3 separate regions of the Homo sapiens genome follow, and regions 1 and 3 are each linked to region 2. Evidence: fine-mapped expression QTL. A gene starts in region 2. Each other region holds a variant in brackets. All regions are shown on one strand. Distances are from middle to middle.

Evidence for each region.
Region 1: its variant is fine-mapped to the expression of RGMB in whole blood (INTERVAL, PIP 0.93).
Region 3: its variant is fine-mapped to the expression of RGMB in whole blood (TOPMed, PIP 0.94).

The regions. Positions count from the first base shown.
Region 1 is chr5:98,456,589-98,464,773 of GRCh38, forward strand. No RefSeq gene overlaps it. Among named protein-coding and RNA genes, the nearest start is that of LINC01846, 300 kb to the left of the region's middle. The variant A/G (reference allele first, on the strand shown) is at 3,828.
Region 2 is chr5:98,769,935-98,778,119 of GRCh38, forward strand. It overlaps RGMB (repulsive guidance molecule BMP co-receptor b), which reads left to right and starts at 3,729. Exons shown (of 3, transcript NM_001366508.1): 1 at 3,729-4,272. The coding sequence starts at 4,137. It overlaps RGMB-AS1 (RGMB antisense RNA 1), which reads right to left and starts at 3,150. Exons shown (of 2, transcript NR_033932.1): 1 at 2,688-3,150; 2 at 1-1,250. RefSeq lists enhancers at 427-927, 3,306-3,355, 4,091-4,590, 4,846-4,965 and a silencer at 3,576-4,205.
Region 3 is chr5:98,656,324-98,664,508 of GRCh38, forward strand. No RefSeq gene overlaps it. Among named protein-coding and RNA genes, the nearest start is that of RGMB-AS1, 110 kb to the right of the region's middle. The variant A/C (reference allele first, on the strand shown) is at 4,112.

The DNA.
Region 1 (8,185 bases), 310 kb before region 2:
AATGATTTATATTTTATCTACAATATCAACATCTACATATACTTGAAAAAATAACATGTTTACTCCATAATAATGAGATTTATACCCATAGGAATTTGTAAATATTATCAAATAAATAACTCTCTACCCACTGCTTTTCCTTTTCCCTCTTGAGAGCACCACTACTGTTTTCCAGAGGGCTCATTTTTGTCTTAAGATCCTTCACATGTATCCATAAAAATTAAGAATAAATGTATAAAATAAAAATTCTTCATGTGTTGAAAGAGGATTCAATACACACCCGAGTATTATGGTAAGAAGCAGTGCTGTTTTCTCACTCAGCTGGCTCCACTACGTCTCCTACAGACCTAGGCTGAGGTGAAGCAGCTGGCGCTTTATGGCTCCTCAATGTGCTACCTCTCTTACCTTCTCAATTTCAACTAATGACATGCATCTTTCCTTTACCTGTCTAAGCTAGGCACCTTGGCGAGGTCTCTTGACCCATTTAATCCAACACAAGTTATGCCTGCTACTACTGTTCCCGTTGAGCTGTTCACATTTTCACATCTGGTTAATGCTAGAGTCATTGGTCATATTACTGCCTGAGTTGTTTTTCCTAGGCACAGACTGCAGGCTATCACAGAGCCCAACTCTTACCTCACACGAGGCCTTCCCCTCTACCTTTTCCTTCCTACTTCCCACTTGAAGTCTTAACCACCTTTTGAACACTGAAGACTCAGCGAAAATGTAACTTCCACTGTCAGTTACCTCGGTTTCTCTAAAAGTGTTTTATCTTATTGAATTTACACTTAATGCCACCTAAACAAATGATTTCAAAATAATCTAACATCTCCTATCATAGTTTGCAAGCAACACAGGGCAGGGACTACATCATCATTACTGTGGTCTATTCAATAGATGTCTATTCGTGGCTGTCGCACACATCTCTATCAAAAGCTTCTAACAGCTCTCCCAGATTGTACAAACTCAAGTTCAAGAACTAGGTTTATCAGAACCCAAGTGGCCCCTAATCTCTCTCTTTATTCACATCTCTCTACCATTAGCTTCACATCTGTCTACCACTTTACTAGTAATTATCAGATATTTCAGCTACATGGCCTCATTTTCTGTCTTTCAAATGTATTTTTTTTTTACTTTCACATAATGCTGTGTTTATTCACTTAATACATTTTCCCCTGATAACCCTTTCTGGTCACTCTTCAAGTCCATCTACTAATCTTTCTAACTGTTGAAGTCTTCCTCATCTTTTATACATAATTAAAATGTTAGCACTTCTGAGGAAACATCTACATTTTATCATTGAGAATTAATGTCCTTTTTTTTTCTTGTGTCTCAGAGTGCTTCACATATGCTTCATTCATATCAGAAAACACAGTAGAGTCTATGCCTTCCTGTGGCAACAACTAAAGCCTAAAATTTCAACAATTTAACCTAACAAAGCTTATTTCTTGCTTATAGAGAATTCAGATAGGTCTGGCATCTTCCCAGGGCTGTTCTCTATGAAATGACTTCATTGGTCCACCAGGCTGCTTCCAAATTATGTCTCTGCTATGGAAACATGAGGCTTCCTTAATCACCTCAGGAGGACAGAAGAAACTGAAGACTCTGCGGGGGATTTTAATGACTCAGCTCAAAAGTGACGTGCTGAGAATCTACAGGCAAAATCAGTCACATTGCCTAGCTTAATGCAAGTGTGCCTTCAAAAAAGAGGATGACTGGGTATTGGTGAGCACTCATATTAAGTATCAGAGAAACTTACTGCATTAAATATATTTATGTATTCACTTGTCTCTTTTTGCTAAACTGTGAGGTCAAGAGAAAAGTGGTAATTTCATTTCCATACCCCAGAACTTCAGCCAGTATCATGCGCTGAGTAAGACATCAATAAGTTATTGTTAGACTAAATTGAATTAAATTACAGGTGAAATAAAGTTGTGCTTAGCTTTGAGGAGAAGAAACAAATTCTATTTCGTCACCTTCCTTAGCATGCTGTATTCACATAGTCATAAAACGGAATCTGTAAGCTTAATGGAGTAAGCAAGAATTATGAAACTAGACTTCCCAACTTCAAATTCTGGCTCTCTCACATTTAGCTGTATAGGTTTGGGAAAATTACTCAATATACATTTACCTCAGTTTCCTCAAAAGTTTGTTATAAATATTAAATGAGTAATTCATGTAAAATACTCAAACAGTATCAATATGTTAAGTACTCAACACATTACATATGATTATTCATTTACTGCATGAATAAGATACCAAAGCTTTCTAATTGCTCTTAGAGAAAACTTCAAAGTTCTTTCCACACTCTGCATGACTTGGCCCTCATCCACTGCACCAACTTCAATGAAAACTATTTCCCTCTTTCTTAGTGATGCTTCAGGCATTTGAATCTTTTTTCTGATTTTTGTTGGTTGGTTGGTCAGTTGGTTGGTTGGATTATGCCAGATTAGCTCCTACCTTCAGACTTTTCAACAGTTTCCCCAAATTATTACTGTTCCATCCCACCACCACCAGAAAACCACTGGTATGGCCTTTCTCATCATTTAGGTTTCAGACGACATTTGATCACCTCATCTAAAGTTGCCAACTACATTGACCAGTCATCCTCTAACATATCTCCTTGTATTATTATCTTCATACCATGACTTGTACCTATTAAGTTGTGAGATGAAAACTTTTTCTTGGCTGGGTGTGGTGCCTCACACCTGTAATCCCAGCACTTTGGGAGGCCAAGGCAGGCAGATCACCTGAGGTCGGGAGTTCGAGACCAGCCTGACCAACATGGAGAAACCCCCTCTCTACTAAAAATACAAAAAATTAGCTGGGCGTGGTGGCGCATGCCTGTAATCCCAGCTACTCGGGAGGCTGAGGCAGGAGAATCACTTGAACCTGGGAGGCAGAGGTTGCAGAGAGCCAAGATCACATCATTGCACTCCAGCCTGGGCAACAAGAGTGAAACTCTGTCTCAAAACAAAACAAACAAACAAAAAAACAACTTTTTCTGTCCTCCTAATATATGGCATTGCAGAGTTTAAGTCATTTGTGCAATGTTACATTGCTAGCACCAGATTAAAACTCAGTCTGGCTCCAATGCCTCTACTCTTGATCACTATGCTCCACTTCCTTGTTAAGCACTTCACCTATTTTCTCATTTAACACAAAATATTGTGATGGTTTTAAGTGCAAGTGCTAGAATAGCTAATTCAAACTGACTTAAATGACAAGCATCTGTACTATATTACATAAAGAAAGTCTTCCAGGTGGTGATGTAATCAAGGATGCAGACTGTCCATCTTTCTGCTCTGCTATACACTGTAGGTCAGTGATGCCTCCCCTCAGGGTCAGAGGACTAAAGCAATTTCAGACTTCACACTTGAGAAGAACATAGTAAGGAAAGATGGCCTTTTTGTCCATGAATATATTTTATTGGAGAAAGAACCTTTCCCAAGAGGAGTTCAGTGGTATCTCCCTGGATCCAAGTGACCAGGCCTGGGTCATATGACCCTGATCTGACTGAAGAGAGGTTGAGAAAGGAACTGATATGTGGAGGAACTGCCTCTAGAATTAGAGGCAGACTTTGACAGAACGTGGGTGTATATGTGTGTAAAAGCAAGACCAAGCATATGCAGTGTGCAGAGGGAAGTAAGCCGAGAGAGTGCTAGGATGGCAGTGGGTAAGCAATTAGCAGTGCCTCCCAGAAGCAAACATTCTATCCTTATATCACAGATGTGAAAACAGACTCCAAGAAGTTAAAAACTTGCAGAAAGTCACCTAACTGGTAAGAGGCAAAATTGGATTCAAATCTAGAGTATGGTAATAAAATG[A/G]GAACTGTAACAACCATACTATACTGACTCCACATTAACCCCTAATCTATGCCATAATGTTTGCCTTAATCCATATAATTCATTGGTGACTTATGCTTTGGTTTGTAACTTGGTATCTTCACGTTATATTCAACTTCCTTTTCTTACAAAAGCCATCTTACCCTTGACTGCTGCACACAACTTAGGTTAAATGTGTCAAAATATTATTCAATGTCAAGGTTCTCAATATTTTTGAGTTCCTAAAATTGTATCCTGTGGTGACTTAGAGAGGAACAGATACAAGAATAGCTATTTATTGAAGGCTCAACTAAGCATTGCCTGTGTAACCATGACTGACTCATCCTTGTAATTTTAAAGACAGCTACATAATATAAAACAGCATAGATGCTTAAAATAAGTTTTTATTTTTGTTTAACATGTAACCACATTATAAAGTTGTATCATGCATTTCTCAACTTAGAATTTAAGTGCATTTCCTTTCAGTCTTTTTCTTTAAATGTTATAATTAGAATTAACACTTATATTAACATTTGGTACCCTTATTTTTTACTTAGCTTTGAAACAAAATATAATTTTATGTTTACCATATAAGCTTTAAAATCATCATTTAAATATGCAATATTTCAGCATTTAGGTGCATCTTAATCATTGCCTAATGTTGAGCATTCAGTGTTTCCAATTGTTCTGCTATTATAAGCAATGTGTGACACGCGTCTCTGTGCATATTCTGAATTATTTTCTTAGACCATATTCCCAGAAGTGGAATGATTAAATCCAAGAAGATGAAAGATTTTTTTTATCAAGGAGTTTGCCAAATTGCTTTCTGAAAGTATGGGGTCAATTTACACTGTGATCAGTAATATATGGGAGCAGTAATTTCTGTGCTCTCACACTCGGTGAGAAATACATTTCTAAATCGATAACTTAAAGTGAGCCTTCATTTTGTAATATGAGAAAAAGAAAAGAGAGAAGTTGAGGGAAAAGAGTCATAGAATCTACGCACTCTGTTAGGGCTCACAGTTTAGAAGGGACAAAATAAATACAAATACATGTCAGTAAAACACTATTGCGGATAGAGAATGGACAGAGAAACTATGTAGTGAGAGAAATGTGTCCTGGCTATTGTGGAAGCTTGGAAAGTAGAACAGCACTTGAGATACCTCATTAAAGGGCAAGGAGGGGAAAGGTGGGTAGAGAGGGCACACAAATTATAGGCATAAGCAAGAGCAAAGACGTGTGTAATCAATGAGGGACATGTTGCAATTTGCAGTCTGAGGTCATAAGAGAGTCAAATGGGAGTCAAAGAATGAAAGAGAATTCTGGTAGGAGAGACAGAGTAAGATCTCGGAGGGTATTATGTGATGTAATAGCTTATATGTAATCCTGTAGATTATGGAAGAATCACTGCACAGTCTTAAGAAAAAAGTGGGCAAGTCAAACTTCTTTTTAAATCACTGTATTTCATCATGCAGTCTATAAAAGCAACATCAGCATCACCCAGGAGGCAAAGAAATGCAAATCCTCAGTCCCAAATGAGATGTACTAAGTCCAAACTCCAGGACAGCCCAGCAATTTGTATTTTAACAGCACTCCAAGTGGATCTGATGTGCAGAAAAGTTTGGGAACCACTAACTTAAATTAACATTCTGGTTGCTTTGATGGGGTAAGGCTAAATGTAAGAGGACCAGTCAGGAGGCTGCTGTGAAGATCAAGTGGAGACATGATGGGTCCTAAACTTGAGTAGGGGGATTGAAACCATTCAGGTGGACTGAGTTTACATAGGAGAAGTATGTAGATTGGGAACTTTTGGCTTAGGACAGAACCCTGGGGTTATATACAAATTATTAAGAAGAGGCGAGGCTAGGCACAGTGGCTCATACCTGTAATCCCAGCATTTTGGGAGGCCAAGGTGGATGAATGGCTTGCGCTCAGGAGTTCAAGACCAGCCTGGGCAACAGGGTAAAGCCGTCTCTACAAAAAATACAAAAATTAGCCAAGCACGGTGGCATGTACCTGTAGTCCCAATTATTCAGAAGGCTGAGGTGAGATCACTTAAGCCCGGGAGGCGGAGGCTGCAGTGAGCCATGTTTGTGCCACTGTACTCCAGCCTGGGTTAAAAAGCGAGATCCTGTCTCAAAATAATAATAGTAATAAATAAGATGCCAAAGAAGAAACTCTCTTTAAGAAAAGAAAAGATATAGTTAAGGAAGTGCGAGAAGGGAAAACGGTGAATATCAGGAAAGCCAAAGAGAGAGAATTTTAAGAGGATTTGAGAATCCCAAGTCAGATGAGGAACAGTACTTCAAAAACAGGAAGACAAAAGAGCATATTATATTTTGTAATCAGGGCATCATTTTTAACTTTAGAGAAAGCAGTTATAGTGCAGCATTGAAGATGGAATCCAATTAAAGGAAGATAAAGAAGAGATGCCATTTGAAAGAATGCAAGAAACTGCATAGATCCAGAGGTCAACAAATATTTTCAGAAAAGGCCGAATAGTAAATATTTTAGGATGATGGGCCTATGGTCTCTGTGGCAATTACACAACTGTGATATTGTAGAGCAAAAAGTGGCCATAGACAATATATAAATGAATGTTCATGGGTCTTCCCATGACTTTACTTATAAGAACAGGTGGCCTGCTAGTAAGTCATAAAGTGCCAACCTCTGGGTTAGACAATTGCAATAGGATTAAGGAAAGGTTTTTTTCCTTTTGTTTACTTTTGCTGTTTTTAAAATGAGAAAGTAATGTACATATTTATAAGCTAGAAAAAAGAGTCAGTAAAAATTAACTGTCAGTAAAATTAAAGAATGCACCTAGTCTTTTATTTAACAATATTTACTGTACTTATACTATGTTCCAAGCATTATTCTAGGCATTGAGACTTTGGGAATAAACAAGATAGACAAGGTCCCAAGGACATCAAAAATGACAGAATCAACAGATAACGCAAAAGATATACTAGATGATGATACGTGCCATAAAAAAGAAAGACCAATAAAATAGGGTGATGTAAAGCGAGTGCCAGCTGGGCTACTCTAGCTTTACAAACAGGAAAGACTTTTCTGAGGAAGTTGTATTTAAGCCTTGCTATGGTCTGAATGTTTGCGTTCCCTCAAAATTCATATATTGAGACTTAATCCCCAATATGGTAGTATTAAGAGGTAAAGTCTTTGGGAGGTCACAAGAGCTCTGCAACTGCCCTCATGAACAGGATTAGTGCCATTATAAAGGAGGCTGAAGGGAGATTCTTTGCCCCTTCCACCATGTGAGGATGGAGAGAAAGCACTACCTATGAGGAATGGGCCTTCACTGGACACCAAATCTGCTGGTATCTTGATCTTGGACCTCCCAGCCTCCAGAACGGTGAACAATAAATTTCTATTGTTTGTAAATTACACAGTTTAAGGCGTTTTGTAATAAGAGCCTGAACAGACTAAGACATGTCTTGACCTGAATGCCTAGAAAGTGCAGTAGAGAGACGTAGTGACTGGAAGAACAAGTCTCTAGGAGGAAGGAGTGTAGGGACCAAAGGGATGAATTCGACTTGGATGAAGGAAAACTGCTCATCTTATCAGGCAAAGAAATAGGTGGAAAGGTTGGCCATATGTTTCCTTAAGTTCATAGATGGAAAGAGCAAAAGGTTCAGAATGACTACGTTTAGATTTCATGATAAGATTACCCAACTAGAATGGTTAGAATGGAAGTTAAATTGAGAATGTAGGTAGAGTTGTGAATAATTGGTGGGGGTGGGGAATTGGTGGGGAAAGGACAAGAAAACTCACCAGAGTCAGATGGAATTAAAAGGTAGCAGTGAAAATACATCCATATTGGGCATAGCCATGAGAAATGTCTGCCTACTTGAATACTGCCAATGTCATCAGGAAGAGAGACTTGCAGCATGTTCTGCAGGGAACAAAATGTAATTCAAACACATGTGTCCCTGACCAAACCACTACATTCATGTTGTATTTGAAGATTAAATGATCTATAGTACAGATTCACAGAGATAAGCTCACTCAAGAGAGTATGTTTCACAAACTTATAGGCAAAGACTAGAAACTGTGGAAACCATTTGTATCACCTAACATGTCCTATCACAATGACTTATAAGACAGTGAAATTGAAGCCTTATATATGTTTTCAAAAATACACTGGAAGCTGCTGTGGGACACTGCAGTATGTGCCACAGGGTAGAAAGAGGTACCATCTGTCAGGGAAAAGAGTTATTTTGGAAAACCCACAAAATGTAAGAAAGGAGAGAATCAGAACAGATCCAAAGTATGGCAAATTAGATAAAGTGGGAAAACAGGCCTTAGCCAGCTGGATGGAATGTAGGGTTTTATACTCCTAACAG
Region 2 (8,185 bases):
TCCGCAGAGCAAACAGCGCCCACGACCCAGGGACAGCTGGCCACCGAAGTCCCTCCCCGGCGCCCTTCCCCGTTCCTTGAGGATAGGGGAGCTGAGGTTTTCATGTGAAGGGCGCCCATGAAATTCGTGGGAACTTGTTCTGGCGTCTTCTGGAGTGGAGTTCTTTCAGGGGTTTCGGGTCTGCCCGGGACTACAAAATGGGATCCTGGGTTGGCTGGAGTTTCCCAGACTAGGCTGGAGAGAGGTCGGCTGTTGGCTCGCGGGAGAGCCCAGAGGAACCCCTTGGGCGATGGCAGTCAAGACCGGCGGCTGCGTTTGCCTGGAAGAAAAGCCTAAATACATTAGCGAGCTGGTAAAGCTTTTAAGGCCTTCTTGGGAGCGAGTGGCTGGCTAATGAGAGGTTAATTTTGTTTCGAAGGGAAGGCTGCACTGGTTTCCTGAGATAAATGGACAGGAAGCGCATTACCTCCGCGCGCTGGCAAGCGGCTCCCAAATGCTTTTTGCACCTGCCGTTTTGAGCGGTGAGAGCAGCGGCGGAGCCCGCAGGGATTGCGGGGGCCCGTTGTCTACGAGCGGGTGATGAGCCCCCCGCAAGCCCCGGGCTCTCTCCCTCCGCGAGTGCATTGCTCACGCCAAGCTTTGGGACTCTTCTCTCACACCCAGGTCCTGCGTGTTCCGAAGTTCAGGGGCCCCCTGATCCCGCTGAGCCCCCTCCAGGAGCGAAAGGGTTAAGAATGATGTAAGTACAGGCACTTGATTTCTCAAGTCGCCCGCTTGGCCCTCTTCCAAGTTGTACTTTCCTTATTTTCTCTCCTTTCCTTTCCTTACTGTTCTAACGCTTTTTAATAAACTTTCACTCTTGCTCTGAAAAAAAAAATGATGTAAGTACAAACCACGAGCTGCTTGACGCTGAGCTGTTGGACTCCGGGCTATTTCAGCCGCTGCTTTGGGTACACAGTGGCCGGGGAGCAGCCGGGGAGCCCTTACTCTAGAAAGGATTGCACAAATCGCAAGCTTAGGTGATCTGTTAAGCAGTCAGAGATTCTCCTGTTAGATTTCTGGAAATGGAGACATATTAACTGGAGAACAGTTAAAAACATCACGTATAGGCTCAGGAAATGAAACTGCATCTTGTTTAGAATCCATTAGTGTTTCTGGCATGTGTTTTAATTCTGTCCACTTGCACGTTCATGCCGTAGTATGCTTTGCTGGATTCTCCGGATGTACTGTTCAGGTCTCCTCCTTCCTTTCTGAAAACAAAGAGAAAGGGAGAAAGAGTACCAGTGGCAAGAAACAGGGTGGATGTGTGAATTACACAAGTCATCAGCCACTTCATGATTTTTTTTCTGATTAAAACATAAAACTTTTATAAGTCACCGATTTTTTTGTTTGTGTTCTAGCTCCCTCCCCGATTTTTCTTTGTACAATATAAAGTCGTTTGTAACTTGCAGCTCACGGGCTTGAGGAGTGGCTGCGGTATAAGCGACTATTCACTACGCTCTTGCTTTCCAAGCCAATTCCTGATCTTGTGAACAGTACGAATTTACCCGCGAGTGTGTCAACTGACCTATGTCTTGAAAATAGGAACCACCTTGCGGTTTACTTGTGAAAATTAGCATTTTCCTCTAGCGGCTGAACACTTATGCAGCAATAAAAAGTGAATTGTTAGGCTTATAAATCTCGAGCTTGTCAAATTTTACAACAGAGGAGCAATAAAGCACCTTATAGAGATGAAGTTTTTCCTCTGAAGAACAGTTCCGTTTAACGACACCAGGATTTGCAATGACTCGAGGACGCCCTCTATTGATAGGAAAATCTAGAGCACCCGTGTACTTATGGAACAGGATATAGGGGGAGGGGAGTAAAAAATCATAGAAAGTCACGAGTGGAAAGACCCAAACCAAACAGAAATTATTGATCCTTAACTATTGAGTATATGCTTTGAAGTATGATCAATAAAGTGAGATGCTGCTTTTATAGGGGTCGAATTAAATCTTGGGTTAAGAGAAAAAAATGTAGTCTTTGTTAGCCAAATACTTTGAAAATCAGTATTATGTTTGATTACTTTTTTAAGATGCTTCTTAGTATGTCATGAACTGTATCTAATTATATGAAGTAATTGCAAGATAGTAAATTTTTGCTCTAATAATACTTAGTCCGCAGCATTATCTAAAAATGTCATATAACTTCCTCCCCAAAAGTCATTTCTCCAGGCAACTGTGAAGCTATTATTAAGCGTATTATGGATATACACAGGCTTGGATTATATTGTGGATAGTGAAAGGTGTGTTTACCCCTTAAGTCATCATAGTATGTAACAAGTAAGTAATGAAAAGTTACAGTAAAAACAGATAGGCATCCTTCATTAGGGACCTAGTGGTTTGGGCAATTCAAAATGTGTCTAATAAGTGAGCTGGTGAGACTGAAGGTTTGCCCCTCAATTATCCTAGTCCATTGATTAGCTCATTTAAACATGTGTGGAATATCAGCATGTCCGTGGTTGATAAGAAATTCCTAATTAGAGATTCTGAGTAACATAGCGGGTACAGTTGCCAACTACGATTTGGATGTTAGTGGATTTTAAATGGCAACCCTGTGCTGTTTGGGGAAAGGCAAAGGCGAGGGCGGTATCAAGTGTCTCTCAGCCTTGAGGTCATTCTTGAGATTAGATACCACTTCACACCTACCGATAACAAATTGGAATCTATCATCAGTCTCATAACTGCTTTTCTGTCTCCACTTGGCAGCCTCTTTCTTTGTAGACAATTGTCTTTTTCCTCACTTTCGGACCCATCCGATCATAAAAGGAGAAAGTGAGCTGCCATTGAATTAATCCGTAGAAATTTGTGGAAAATTTAAATAATCTGTAGAAATTTGTGAAAAAGCCACTGAGCAACAACAAATCGTGGCATAATTACACTGCATAAAAACCCACCACTCTCATTAATTACACTGTAACCGAACGTTGAAGTTTGCCCACTCTTAGACCTCTCCTTGCCGCTTTCAGGAAGGGAAATGTCAAACTAGAACACCTGAGCCTCGCACAGCTGCCAGCGAATTCCGGCGGCAGTTCGCGGGTACCTTCCCAGCCCATCCTATCTGCTCCGGACCGCGGGTGACATTCAGATTTCCAACACCGCCCCGAGCTTGCTTTACCAGACACCCTCAAACGACTCGGAACGCGGTTCCGCAGATGTGATTGGCTGAAAGGGGACCTGCCGCGCGGCGCTCTGTAAAAGCGCCTGCTTCCTCCAAGGAGGTGGAGCTGAAGCTGGCAGGGCCAGGGCAGGGAGGGGTAATTAAATTAAAAAAAAAACTTGGAGGGAAGATGAATCGGATCACATTAATTCAAGGAGAGGTCAAAGGCCGGTACCTTTGTAACGCCGGCGAGAGTAAGACTTGCGGTCGCCCATTTCTGTTGGGCGCGAGGAAACAGTAAATCGCGGAAGGGGGTAGAGGGGGAAGGAAAGGGAGCGCGAGGCAGCATGCGGCGCAGGAGAGAGGACTTGGAGTCGATGGACAGGGAACTCGAATTACACTGAGCGGGCGGGGGAGAGGGCCCTCTGGGTCCTGCGATTGGCAGGCTGAGTCGGGCTGACGTGCGGTCACAACCAATGGGGAGGAAGGGAGGGACACGGCGGGGGATTATGGCGTCGTGGATTGGCGGGCACAGGGCGGGGCGGGACGGCAGTGCGGGACTGAGATTGATCGACCGCGGGGGCTGCCGCGCAGAGATATCCGGGCCGCCGGTGGGTGGTCGCTAGGGCTGGGCCAGCCTCTTGGAGGTCCACGCCCGCCGAGCCCACGCTGGCTGGGGCCGGGGTGCCGGCGCGCTCGGGACTCGTCTCAGCAGTCGCTCACGGTCTTTGTGTCTTCTCTTCCGCCCCTTTCCCTGCCTGCCGCCTCCGGCCGCCACGATGCCCCTGCGCCCCGCTGCTGCCGCCGCGGACTGGCTGCGCCGGCTGCGCGCTGCTTGCTGCGGCGGTGGTGGCGCCCCATCTGCTACACGGGCCTGAAGAAGGAAGAAGAGGAAGCGAAGCGCGCCCCCCGGCCCATGCCGCAGCCACGGGCCCAGACCCGCCACGGCGCCCGCGCCGCCGCCCTCGCCGGAGCCCACGAGACCTGCATGGACGGGCATGGGCTTGAGAGCAGCACCTTCCAGCGCCGCCGCTGCCGCCGCCGAGGTTGAGCAGCGCCGCAGCCCCGGGCTCTGCCCCCCGCCGCTGGAGCTGCTGCTGCTGCTGCTGTTCAGCCTCGGGCTGCTCCACGCAGGTAGGACGGGAGCGCGCGAGGGGAGCCAGCCCCGGGGCCTAGGGCTTTGTTCCCAAATAGCCCCAGGTCTCGAAGGCGCTCGCCGGGGCGGAAGGGCGGCGTGGCGCAACGGGAAAGGCCTCCCGAGCCCCTGACACGCACCTCTGTCGGGCTCCGGGCCACAGTAACGCAGCCACCCACCGGGCGGCCGCCGGGCGCAGAGACGAGCCTTCTCTCCACCCTCCCCGCCTTCGGCTCGGACCGCTGACAAATCTCCCCTCCGACAGCCGCTTATCAAACATTTAGCGGGCGGGGGCCGCGCGCCCGAGACAAATGTTCCGGATGCTTTATTGCTCTCTGCGCTGGTGTTTACTGAAAGTCAGGCTCGGATCAGGTTTCCGCCGTCGCAGCCGCCTCGGAGGGAGACAAGGAGCCTTGTGCTGCTTTTCTGGAGTTGGGGGTGGCGGCGAGGCGAAGGAAGTACACCAGATGGAAAGATTTTTACCAGATTTTGCAAACCTGGGAGTTAATCTCGAAGTAACGTCAACTTTTTTGAGCAGGGATTTCTTTCGTTTTGGCAAAAGCTGCGTTTGTTCAGCGATCAGCCTCCCGGGAAAAGCTCGTGTTTTGTGACTAGCCGGGTGTCTTCGGGCTCCGTGAGGGGTTGACAGATAACCATGCTGCCTTCTGGAGGTCGGCGCTTCCCCAGCCTTGAGGCGTATGTTCCAAGGGAAGTAAGCCTGCAAATGAGCCTTCTACCATGTGATACCTATTTTTCTTTTTAAAAAATCGTTTCATGAAAATCCAGGACGCTCTTCACACTATTTTTTTCTAGGAATTTGCCTAGACAAAGAATTTTTTTTAATGCTAAGGTTGAAAGGGTCATTTTCCTTTAGTCTTGAGAACAAACAGCATTAGATAAGTTTCTTTTCCTTCCAGACCTTTTTTGTCCTGTATATATGAGACACTTCACAACGTTCTGGTCTGGAGAATCCTGAACTTCGATGCCACCCAACTGTGCGGAGTAATTTTTACTTATTAAACCATACCCGCCATGCTAAAAATCAGGGAGGTCTTTTAAGTAATGGGGGGGAAAATGTGACATCTGAGGAGACTTAATTTACTTTGCGTAGCTTTGCATTATGATGTAATAGCTGCTTTTTAACACCGACAATTAGGGAAAAGACGGCTTAATAAAAAAGTGTAATAGAAAGTTTTAGGATGATTACGGCTTTCAATTAGTAACCTAAGAACCTTAGAAAATAGTGTCAATCTGCATGTAGTTACGTGGAAAATTTTTCTTGACATGTTAAAAGATATATTCAGGAGTGTTTGTGCGAAAAATATGTGTCCATAATACCAAAATGTAAGTTTCATGAAATGGAAATTGTGCTAGGTGGGATTGTGTCCCCCTTGGCTGCTTGGATATTGTTTCCCATAGTTGCCATAGGATCCTGTGACAGAATTGGAATGTGGTCCCTGAAGGTTTCTTTGCTAGCCCGTGAAAGGCATACTAAGTTGGCTTAAAGGTTTAGAAAAGTAGGGTGTCTTCGTTCAAGAATTTGGAATGTGAAGCTCCCAGTATCTTCATGTGTCCTCATTTAAGTCACCATTAGATTCAGCCCAACAATGTGGTAAGCGATTTCTATGGACAACTTGTTGGAGTGAAGCGATTAATCCTGTTAAAGAAAAGAACGCTCCTTTTGAGAGATTTCTTTGAAGAGTGGTGCTATTTAAATGCCCGGGTTGTTTCTCAGATAAGGGAACCCAGCAAGAGTGCCAGTGCTCTTTGCAGATGGACTACTATATGTTTTATGCCTGGATCCTTATCATCTGCCTCAGCACCCCATATGGCTCCACATTTCACTTAATTCAGCTTCAGAATACCTCATTTCTTTTATTATAAACTGGTGATTGTGCTGCAGATTCACACGTGTAGTCCTGGTGTTAAAGAAACTGTCTTGAATGGTGAGGTCTTTATGTCTGATTCATTCAAAAATGATGAAATGAAAGCTCTAGACCCACAAATGCTTTAGCATGTTCAGTAACTGGTGTGAAAATACTGTCACACTGATCACAGATAATCTGACCCAAAAATAGAGAAATCTGTAGCTGCAGAGTTTTAATTCTGCCCTTGGGGAATGAAAAGAGTATGAAAAGAGTACCTTTAGTTGCTTTATTTTATTTTATTTTTTTTAAGCAAACCTCTGCAATTCCTGAATAGAGATCCAATATGGGAGTTACTTGCTTACTCATACACTTCATGGCCTTCTTGGCTACATCCTTGAGATTGTTTCTGCTCCGCATTGTCTTGGCATTTTGACAGGAGGCTTACTTTACCGCCTATAACAGGCAAAGTGTGCGTTGTCGTTATAAATTCATGAAGCCTGGATATTTCTGGGTGTATGCTACAAATTAGTCATTATATAGAAGCCCACAAGGCAGCTGAAAATGCTGACCCAATCGCACTTTCTATTTAGCCCTCTTCGCTCCCATCATCTCTGTAGCAGAAGGCTGTTGGAAGCCTTAGCCAAAGCAAAAGAACCCCGGGAGATCTGTTTGATTTGAGATTTGTTTAAGCAGTCAGCACCTACCTGCTATGAAAGAGGGAAAGGTTTAGGCCGGGCGCTGTGGCTCACGCCTGTAATCCCAGCACTTTGGGAGACTGAGGCGGGCAGATCACCTGAGGTTGGGAGTTCAAGACCTGCCTGACCAACATGGAGAAACCCTGTCTCTACTAAAAATACAAAATTAGCCGGGTGTGGTGGCGCGTGCCTGTAATCCCAGCTACTAGGGAGGCTGAGGTAGGAGAATCGCTTGAACCTGGGAGGCGGAGGTTGCAGTGAGCCGAGATCGCGCCACTGCTCTCCAGCCTGGGCAACAAGAGCAAGACTCCGTCTCAAAAAAAAAAAAAAGGAAAGGAAAAGGTTTGGGGGGTTGCAAGGAAGGTATGAAAAGGGAGCTGGGAATCTAAATTCCACTTTTCTTTCCTTCTGAATGGTTCCATCTGCATTTCCATACTGTTCGTTTGATATTTTATGACTATTTGAAATAATTATAAAGAAACGTATGCTCGGATAGATTTTATAGACCATAAAAAGAACAAATAGGCACTGCAAGTTTAGCGGGAAGTTCTTGTGCTGTCATTTATCCGTAGTCTTAAGAGCTCTTCATTACTGAGACCTTGGCCCCATATTTATTTTCTTGCTTTCTGTGTATCTGATTTTAAAAGAAAAAAAATGCAATAGCTACTTAAGTCTTTTTTTCAGCCATCAAGTACTGTCATTGCAGTTAGGAAATAAGAGGAGACGTGACCTGTGATGGAAGAACAACAAGTTTTGAGGGAAGGCACCACATCCTGGCTTAATGATGCTAGCTGTTTTATGATTCTGCCAGAACAAGCCCTTTAATATCCCTTTGCCTTGGATTTCCCATCTGCAAAATGGCTTTAACGCCTTTTGGAGTTGTTTAGTTGGTTAATTTCTGTTTTGGTTTGATTTGAGTTCTAGTGAAAAATAGCTGAAAATTATTTGATCTGCTTTGGAAAGAGAAATTCAGTAAATACTGGAGCTACTTTTGTCAGCTTTGGAATGAGCAAACATAAAGTAGATTCCACACAAAGATGTTTTTGTAACTTTTTTTTTGAAAGTATGATTTGATGATTGCTGTAAATCCATAGCTCCAACATATTAAAATGTTTTAATCTTTGACTCAGGTTAAAGTGAATACCAAGCCTAGACTATATAGTATTTTCCCCTTTTTGACCCAAACACACTTTCTCTGTATTTAGCCCTCTTCCCTCCCATCATCTCTGTAGCAAAATGCTGTTGGAAGCCTTAGCCAAAGCAGAAGAACCCAAGAAGATTTGAAATTTAAAATTTAAAATTTAAAATTTTGCAAATTTAAAAGTGGTGACAGAGTTGTCTTCAGAAGT
Region 3 (8,185 bases), 110 kb before region 2:
ATAAAGATAGCGGCTTAGGAACTGAAAGGTGTGAAATGTCTTTCCTCAGTGTTGTTTGCTCATATCCTGGAAAGACCCACAAGGTTGATAAAGCTGAGCAGTTGTTCATTGGCAGTTTTTTTTCAGGTTTCTGTTTGGAAAAGCTGTAAACTAGGCACAGAAATGGCAATATATTAGATTGCCTGAGAGAAAGCTCAAAGCACTCTCTGGGAGCATGCCAAAAGAAACCTCTGAAGAAAAAACTGTGGGTGGCTCATTGGTGGATGAAAAAGATCCTTGAGTCAATTCCTATTGAGTACACTTTCCTTTCTCTTGTTTTGTAACCCCCCTGTGGACATCAATTATTCTCACTCCAGGCTAGAAGATTTCCCACTTTCCTGAACAAGAGGTCTTTGGAGAACTGAATGCAGATATTTCCTTTCACTTCTGTGGCTTGAACTCTCCATAAGTTGTGTGGTCTGTGTTTCTATTATTTTTAAAATGGGAAAATAAAAGGGTAAACTGCAATAAGACCTACCAAGGTGCCAAATAAATTCAAAATAACTTTGCAATTGCAGTTTCTTCAACTAAAACACCTCCATACATTGAAATTAGAGTCTTTACTCTTTCAAGCACAGCTGTGGTTGGAGAAGTTTGTGTAATCCCTCTTGATTATGTGAGAAGTGGGCAATTGAAAAGACAACTGCAGGGAGGTCAGAACCCCAAAATCAGTAATGGCCCAATCTGACTGTCATTAGTGATGAAAAAGCACCAATGAAAAATCCTTTACTAATAGTCATGCTGTCTTTTTACAATCTATTCTTAAATTAGTCATTATTTTGGAAGCAAAGTAGTTACCGGGGTGATTTTGAAGAGGAGTCTCAGTATGCTTAATGGAAAGTTTGCCCTTATAAGATGACTTGGGACAATAGATTTGTTCAAATTGCTATGAAATCTAGAGAACTCTTGAACATGGACCTTTGAATCTTCATGTTGAAATCTATTTGTCAAATTGTTCAAATACTATTACAAGATTATGGTTTCCTGATATTTTCTTTCCCCCCCAAAAAATTTCAAGACTATACGAACATCTAACTTAAACAAGTTTGTATGTATTTATTATTGGGGAAACGTGTATTTTAAAATACATTTTATTACAGAGTACTGGGTAATACTATTATTTTTTATCTTCGAACCTAAAACAACATGCCAATAGGCACGCTAAGAGCCAATATATGACCAGCAAAAAAAAAAAAAAAAAAAAAAAAAAAGCGAAATAGGGAATCTATGGCTTATTTTAAGTTTATTTTTTGAGAAACAAGTTCGATGAAAATTACTTGGGGCAACTGAGTTTTGAACATAGTGTCATGTATCCCACGGCAGGCTCCCAGGTGCACGTACAGCAACTCTCAGCTCCCTATTAGCCTGAATCTCTTCCTCCAGCTCACTGCTGAATTCCTATAGAGCCACAGTGCCTACCACATCAGGAGGTACACAGCCACCAGCAACATGCTAGGCTGGGAAAAGATAGAAAACCCTTTCCATAGTTTACATAGAGATGAGCAGGGATTTCAATGGTTTCTGTTGTGTTATTTCTCAAGTATTAGATGTTTATAAAGATGAGTCCAAGTATTGCATGTGTGTAAAGAAAAATAATCACCCAAAATCTACTATGTATTACCTAAAAAATAACAATGGATTAATATTTTGAGCTATATAACTCCAATACATTCAAGAATTTTTTGTAAATATGCATAACAGGTACATCTATATATCTATCTATACATCATTCAAAACTTGTTTCATTCAATGCATATTATACTGTTTCTTTTTATTACTCAACTTTATATCTGAAATATGTGTATGTTAACAAATAAATATACAATTACCTTATTACTTATATTGGAGAAGTTGTACTTCATAGTATTTGAACATAAGCTCTGGAATAGGACTACTTAAGTTGAACCCGAGTCTTATTGACCAATTGTGTGATCTTGTGCAAGATCATTAAACACCTTGACCCTCAATTTCCTCACATATAGAATGATTATTATAATAGTATCTATCTTATAGGGTTGTAGCAAAGATTAAATGAGTCAATATATGTAAAGAAGTTATAAGAATGCCTAGCACACAGTGAATATTCAGTAAATGTCAGTTACCATTTTTAAAGCTTTATAGTATTTCATTGTGTAAGTGTACAATTTATGTACGTATATAGATATTATTACTGTTTTTAATAGCAAACATTTGTAAATGAGGTATAATGACAATACCTCATACCTCATACCTCATTTACAAATGTTTGCTATTAAAAACACAGTAATAATATCTATATATATACATATTTTCATATGTTTCTGACTTATTTTGGAGGGGAATAATTTTACAGAGGTAGAATTTCTCAGTCAAATGCTGTACACATTCATGTGTCTTTTTTTTAGTGTTTTATTTTTATTTTTATTTTTTACTATTATATTTTAAGTTCTAGGGTACATGCTCACAATGTGCAGGTTTGTTACATATGTATACATGTGCCATGTTGGTGTGCTGTACCCATTAACTCATCATTTACATTAGGTATATCTCCTAATGCTATCCTTCCCCCGACCCCACGACAGGCCCTGGTGTGTGATGTTCCCCTTCCTGTGTCCAAGTGTTCTCATTGTTCAGTTCCCACCTATGAGTGAGAACATTCATGTGTCTTTTAAAGCTGATTGCCCATAAATTTACAGGAGTAGAATTTCTCAAAGGCTCTACATATTCATGAGTCTTTTGAAGCTGATTGCCAATATGACATCAGAAATGTTAAACCCCTTTTTGCCCATCAAGCAGAGTATAAGAATACTCAACAACCACTGGTCATGTATGTTTTAAACATTTTTACTGTGACTAAAGTTTTTAAATAACTCTTCTGAAAATATAAGGAAAAAATAAAACAAGAACACAGACTTCCCTGAAGAGCTAACAATTGTGCTCCAAGAGAAAGCCAACAGTTGTATTGCCTGCTCCCCAAGGGTTCCATTCGCTAACCAGTGTAATCCAGAGGGGTAGCAACAATCAGGAAGGAGAGTCTGTTTGTACAGGAGTTGACCTTGCCATTTTTTTTATTAAATCCAATTCCAAAAACGTACAAATACAAAAGAGAGGAAAGGGGAAATTTAAAAATAGCTTTGCCCCTACTCTGAGGTGTGAAATGAAAGAAGAGCTTGAAATTCCCTGCAGGTTTGTGGAAGCCAGTCCTGACCTGCTCAAGTAGGGAGGAAAAATAGAGGAATGCAGGTTTAAACTGACTACACTGGCATATCTTAATTATTGAAAATTACGAGAAAACTATGAGATCTGCCTAAGATAAGAAAGGAAACCCAACAGATCATGATGAAAGAAAAAGATTGGGGGAAAAAACTACAATGTGTTGTGTTTGTGCCTTCTTGAGTTCAAGCAGTTTAAAGAACAATATGCAATCCTAATTGAAATGTATAACACAAAAGTTTTAGAAACATGTCTAAAAATTTTACTTGGCCAGGTGCTGTGGTTCATAACTGTAATAGCAATACTTTTGGAGGTTGAGGCAGGAGGATCACTTAAGGCCAAGAGTTCCAGATCAGTCTGGGTAAAACAGCGAGACTGTGCCCCCACAAAAAAATTAAAAATAGCTGGGTGTGGTGGCACACACTTGTAGTCCTAGCTACTTAGGAGCTGAGGTAGGAGGACTGCTTGAGCCCAGGAGTTCAGGGCTGCAGTGAGCTATAATCATGCCACTGTACTCCAGCCTGGGTGGCAACAAGACCCTATCTCAAAAACAAACAAATAAAACTTTATTCAATTAATTTCTACCATGAGAAAAGCATGTTGGATCAGATCTCCAAACCAAAAGGGTATTTTTAAAGCTGATTTTAATTAACATTCTTGTGGAATACTTTTTAAATTATAGAATATTAATTTATTAATAATTTATTGAGCACCTACTATGCACCAGCTACTGTTCTAGATACTAGAGATTTCAAATAGACTATGAACAAACAAATAAATTTATAATGTCCATATAAGGTCAGTTTCTTACAAATGTTTATGAAGAAAAATCATAATGAAGTGTTAGAATGTATCAATGAAGCTAAGAGGGCTTTTGTAG[A/C]CTGGGTGATAAAAGAAATCTTCTCTGAGGAGTTAACATTTTAGCAGAAACTTTTAAAATGTGATCAAGAGGAAGGTGGAGCAAGATGGCTGGATAGAAGCCTACACCGTTTGTTCCCCCTACCAACCAAGCCCCACAAGAACACCCAATTTTAACAACTAACTACACACAAAAATCACCATCACAAGAACCAAAAATCACATGAGCACTCACAATGCGTGGGTTTTTTTTTGGTTTGTTTGTTTGTTTTTTGAGACAGAGTCTCGCTCTGTCGCCCAGGCTGGAGTGCAGTGGCGCGATCTCGGCTCACTGCAAGCTCCACCTCCCGGGTTCATGCCATTCTCCTGCCTCAGCCTCCCGGGTAGCTGGGACTACAAGCACCCGCCACCACACTCGACTAATTTTTTGTATTTTAAGTAGAGACGGGGTTTCACCGTGTTAACCAGGATGGTCTCAATCTCCTGACCTCGAGATTCGCCCGCCTCGGCCTCCCAAAGTGCTGGGATTACAGGCGTGAGCCACCACGCCCGGCCCACAGTGCCTGGTTTTAATTTCATATAGCTGAGAGAGGCACTGAAAGGCAGTAGGAAAGACAGTCTTTTTTTTTTTTTGAGATGGAGTTTTGCTGTTGTTGCTCAGGCTGGAGTGCAATGGCACGATCTCAGCTCACTGCAACCTCCACCTCCTCAGTTCAAGCGATTATCCTGCCTCAGCCTCCAGAGTAGCTGGGATTATAGGCATGCGCCACCATGCCCGGCTAATTTTTTTGTACTTTTAGTAGAGACAGGGTTTCACCATGTTGGCCAGGCTGGTCTCAAACTCCTGACCTCAAATGATCTTCCCACCTTGGCCTCCCAAAGTGCTGGGATTACAAGCGTGAGCCACCGCGCCCGGTGGAGAGGCAGTCTTAAATAGCTGATGCCACTCTTCTCATCCATACCCTTCCCCCACAGTGGCCATGCAGCACAGAGAATCTGTGTACTGGGAGAGGGAGAACACAGCAACTGGGGAACTTTACATTGAATTCAGTGTGCCCTGTCACAGCAGAAAACAGAACTGGGTTGTACCCAGCTGACACTTGCCCACCAAGGGAGCATTTGGACAAGCTGCAGCCAGAGGGAAATCGCCCATCCCAATGGTCAGAGCCTGAAGTCCGGCAAGCTTTGCCACCCACATGGCGAAAGTGCTCTGGAACCCTAAGGGAACTTAAGGGGCAGTCTAGGCCATAAGGACTGCAACTCCTAGGCAGGTCCTAGTGCTGAGATCGGTTCAGAGCCAGTGGACTGGAGGGACACACAATCTACTGAGACACAAGCTGGTACAACTAAGGGAGTGCTTCCACCACCCCTCCCCCATCCCCTAGTAGCAGCCATGCAGCATGGAGAAATCTATAGGCTTGGGAGAGGGAAAGTACAGCAACTGTGAGACTTTACATTGAACTCAGTGCTGCCCTGTCACAGCAGAGACCAAAGCTGTGATGGGCTCAGCCAACACCCTTGCACGAAGAGAGCATTTGGATGAGACCTCGCTAGAGGAAAATTGCCCATCAAAGTAGTCAGAACTTGAGTTTCTCAGCAGGCCTCTCCACCACTGGCCAAAGTGCTCTAGGGTTCTAAGTAAACTTAAGAGGCAGTCTAGGACTGAAGGACTGCAATTTCTTTTTTGTTGTTGTTTTTTGGCTTGAGGTGGATTTTATTTACTCTGGTGTTTTTAGCTCTTTGCTACTTGCTTACATGTTATCTGAGGGTTGATGTTAATGGGGGCAGTTTTATAAGAATTAGTGGGAAAATAAGGTGTTTTAGAGCCTTGCAAAAGGAAAGCCAACTCCATAAAATGTTCTAGGATAGAATTTGTCACATTTCTCCCCTTACGATAATAATTAAATGCAATATAACATTCTTTATAAAAAAATAAGAGCAATATAATTGAAGGAAATCAGGCAACTACTAGGGCTGGCCTGGGCTTAGAGACAGTGGATTGGAATGGCATGTGACCTAGGGAGACACCAGCCAAGGTGGCTAAGGGAATGCTTGCGCCATGCCTTCTCCAACTTCAGGCCATGCAGCTGGCAACAACAAAAGTGACGCCTTCCTCCTGCTTGAGGAGAGGAGTGAAAAGTATAACAGACTTCGCCTGACATCTTGGATACCAGCACAGCCATAGTAGGATATGGCATGGTACACAGTCATAAGGTCCCCATTCCATGCCCTAGCTCATTTCTTGACACTCCCTGGGCCAAAAGAAAATGTGCTGTCTTGAATGAAATGACCCAGTCCTGGCAGGACTCATTGCATGAAAATTAAAGAGTTCTTGGGCTGGGCGTGGTGGCTCATGCCTGTAATCCCAGCGCTTGGGAGGCTGAGGCAGGTGGATCATGAGGTTAGGAGTTTGAGACCAGCCTGACAAACATGGTGAAAACCGTCTCTATTAAAAATACAAAAAAAAAAAAAAAAAAAAAAATTAGTGGGGCTTGGTGGCACATGCCTGCAATCCCAGCTACTCCAGAGGCTGAGGCAGAAAAATCACTTGAACCCAGGAGGTGGGGGATGCAGTGAGCCAAGATCATGCCACTGCACTCCAGCCTGGGCGACAGAGCAAGACTCCATCTAAAACAAACAAACAAAAAAAACAAACTCCTGGGCCCCAGATAACCAACAATGATACTCAGTTAATACAGCATGCAGCATGGGTCTTGCACTCTGAGACATGCTGCCTTCAGGTGTGTCCCAGCATATTCCCACCTATGGTGGCTATAGTGAAATTTCCCTTTTTGAGAAAAGCAGAGGGAGAAGGAAAGAGGACTTTGTCTTACACCATAGGTACTAGCTCAGCCACACTGGGGTAAAGCAACAAGAAGACACTTGAGGTCCTCAAGTCCAAGCCTAGGCACTTGGAAATCAATTCTGGATCTGCCCTGGACCAAAGGTAGGGGCAACTGCCCTAAAGAGTGAGACCTGGGCCTTGCAGTGTTCACCACAAGCTGACGGAAGAGCCCTTGGGCCTTAAGTGAACATCACTGGTGGCCAGGCAGAAGCCCTGTGTGAGCTGGTAGTGATGGTGGACACGGAGAGCGGTTTCTTTGCCAGTGAGTAGAGGGAAGAGCAAGAAGGAATTTGTCTTGTAGTTTGAATGCCAGCTTAGCCACAGTAGAATATAACATCAGGTAAATTGCTAACATTTTTTACTCCAATCCCTGGCTCCCAGATAGCATCTCTGGACCCACAGGGGCCATGGGGGAACTTGCCACTCTAAAGGAAGGAATTAAAATCTGGCTGGCTCCACCACATGCTGGTCATAGAGCCCTAAGGCCTTGAGTGAACATAGGTGGTAGCCATGTAGTGGTTACAGCAGGCCATGGATGACATCCAGTGCTGTACTGGCTTCAGGTCTAAATCAGCACAGTCCTGGTGGTTGTGGCCACAGGAATGCCTGAGTCTACCCACACCTAGTTCCAGGCAGCTCAGAACAGAGAGAGAGAGAGAGAGAGAAAGAAAGACACTCTGTTTTTTGGGGAGAAAGTAAAGGAAAAAAACAAGAGTATCTACCTGGTAATTCAGAGAACTCATCTAGATCTTATTCAAGACTACTAAGGCAGTATTTCTACAAGTTTCTAAGAACCACAGCATTGTTGGATGGGCCAAGTTCCTTCAAATACCTGGAAAGCCTTCCTAAAAATGCAAGCCCAGATTGCAAAACGACAATAAATGCCTAACTCTTTAATGATGCCCAGACACTGATGAACATCTACAAACATCAAGACCATCCAGGAAAAGGAGGGGCCAAGATGGCTGACTAGAAACAGCTATGGTCAGAGGTGCCTACCAAGAAGAATGAAAACAGTGAATGAATCCTGCAGCAACTAAGGTATCCAGGTTCTCTCACTGAGACTGACTTTGCAGTTGGCAAGACCCATGGAGAGTGAGGAAAAGCAGGGCGGAGTAACAGCACACCCAGGAGCTGCACAGTGCAAGGGGAGCTCCCACTCCCAGCCAAGGGAGGTAGTGAGTGATTGTGCTACCCCACCTGGGAAACCACACTTTTTCCATGCATCCATGCAACCCACAAATCAGGAGA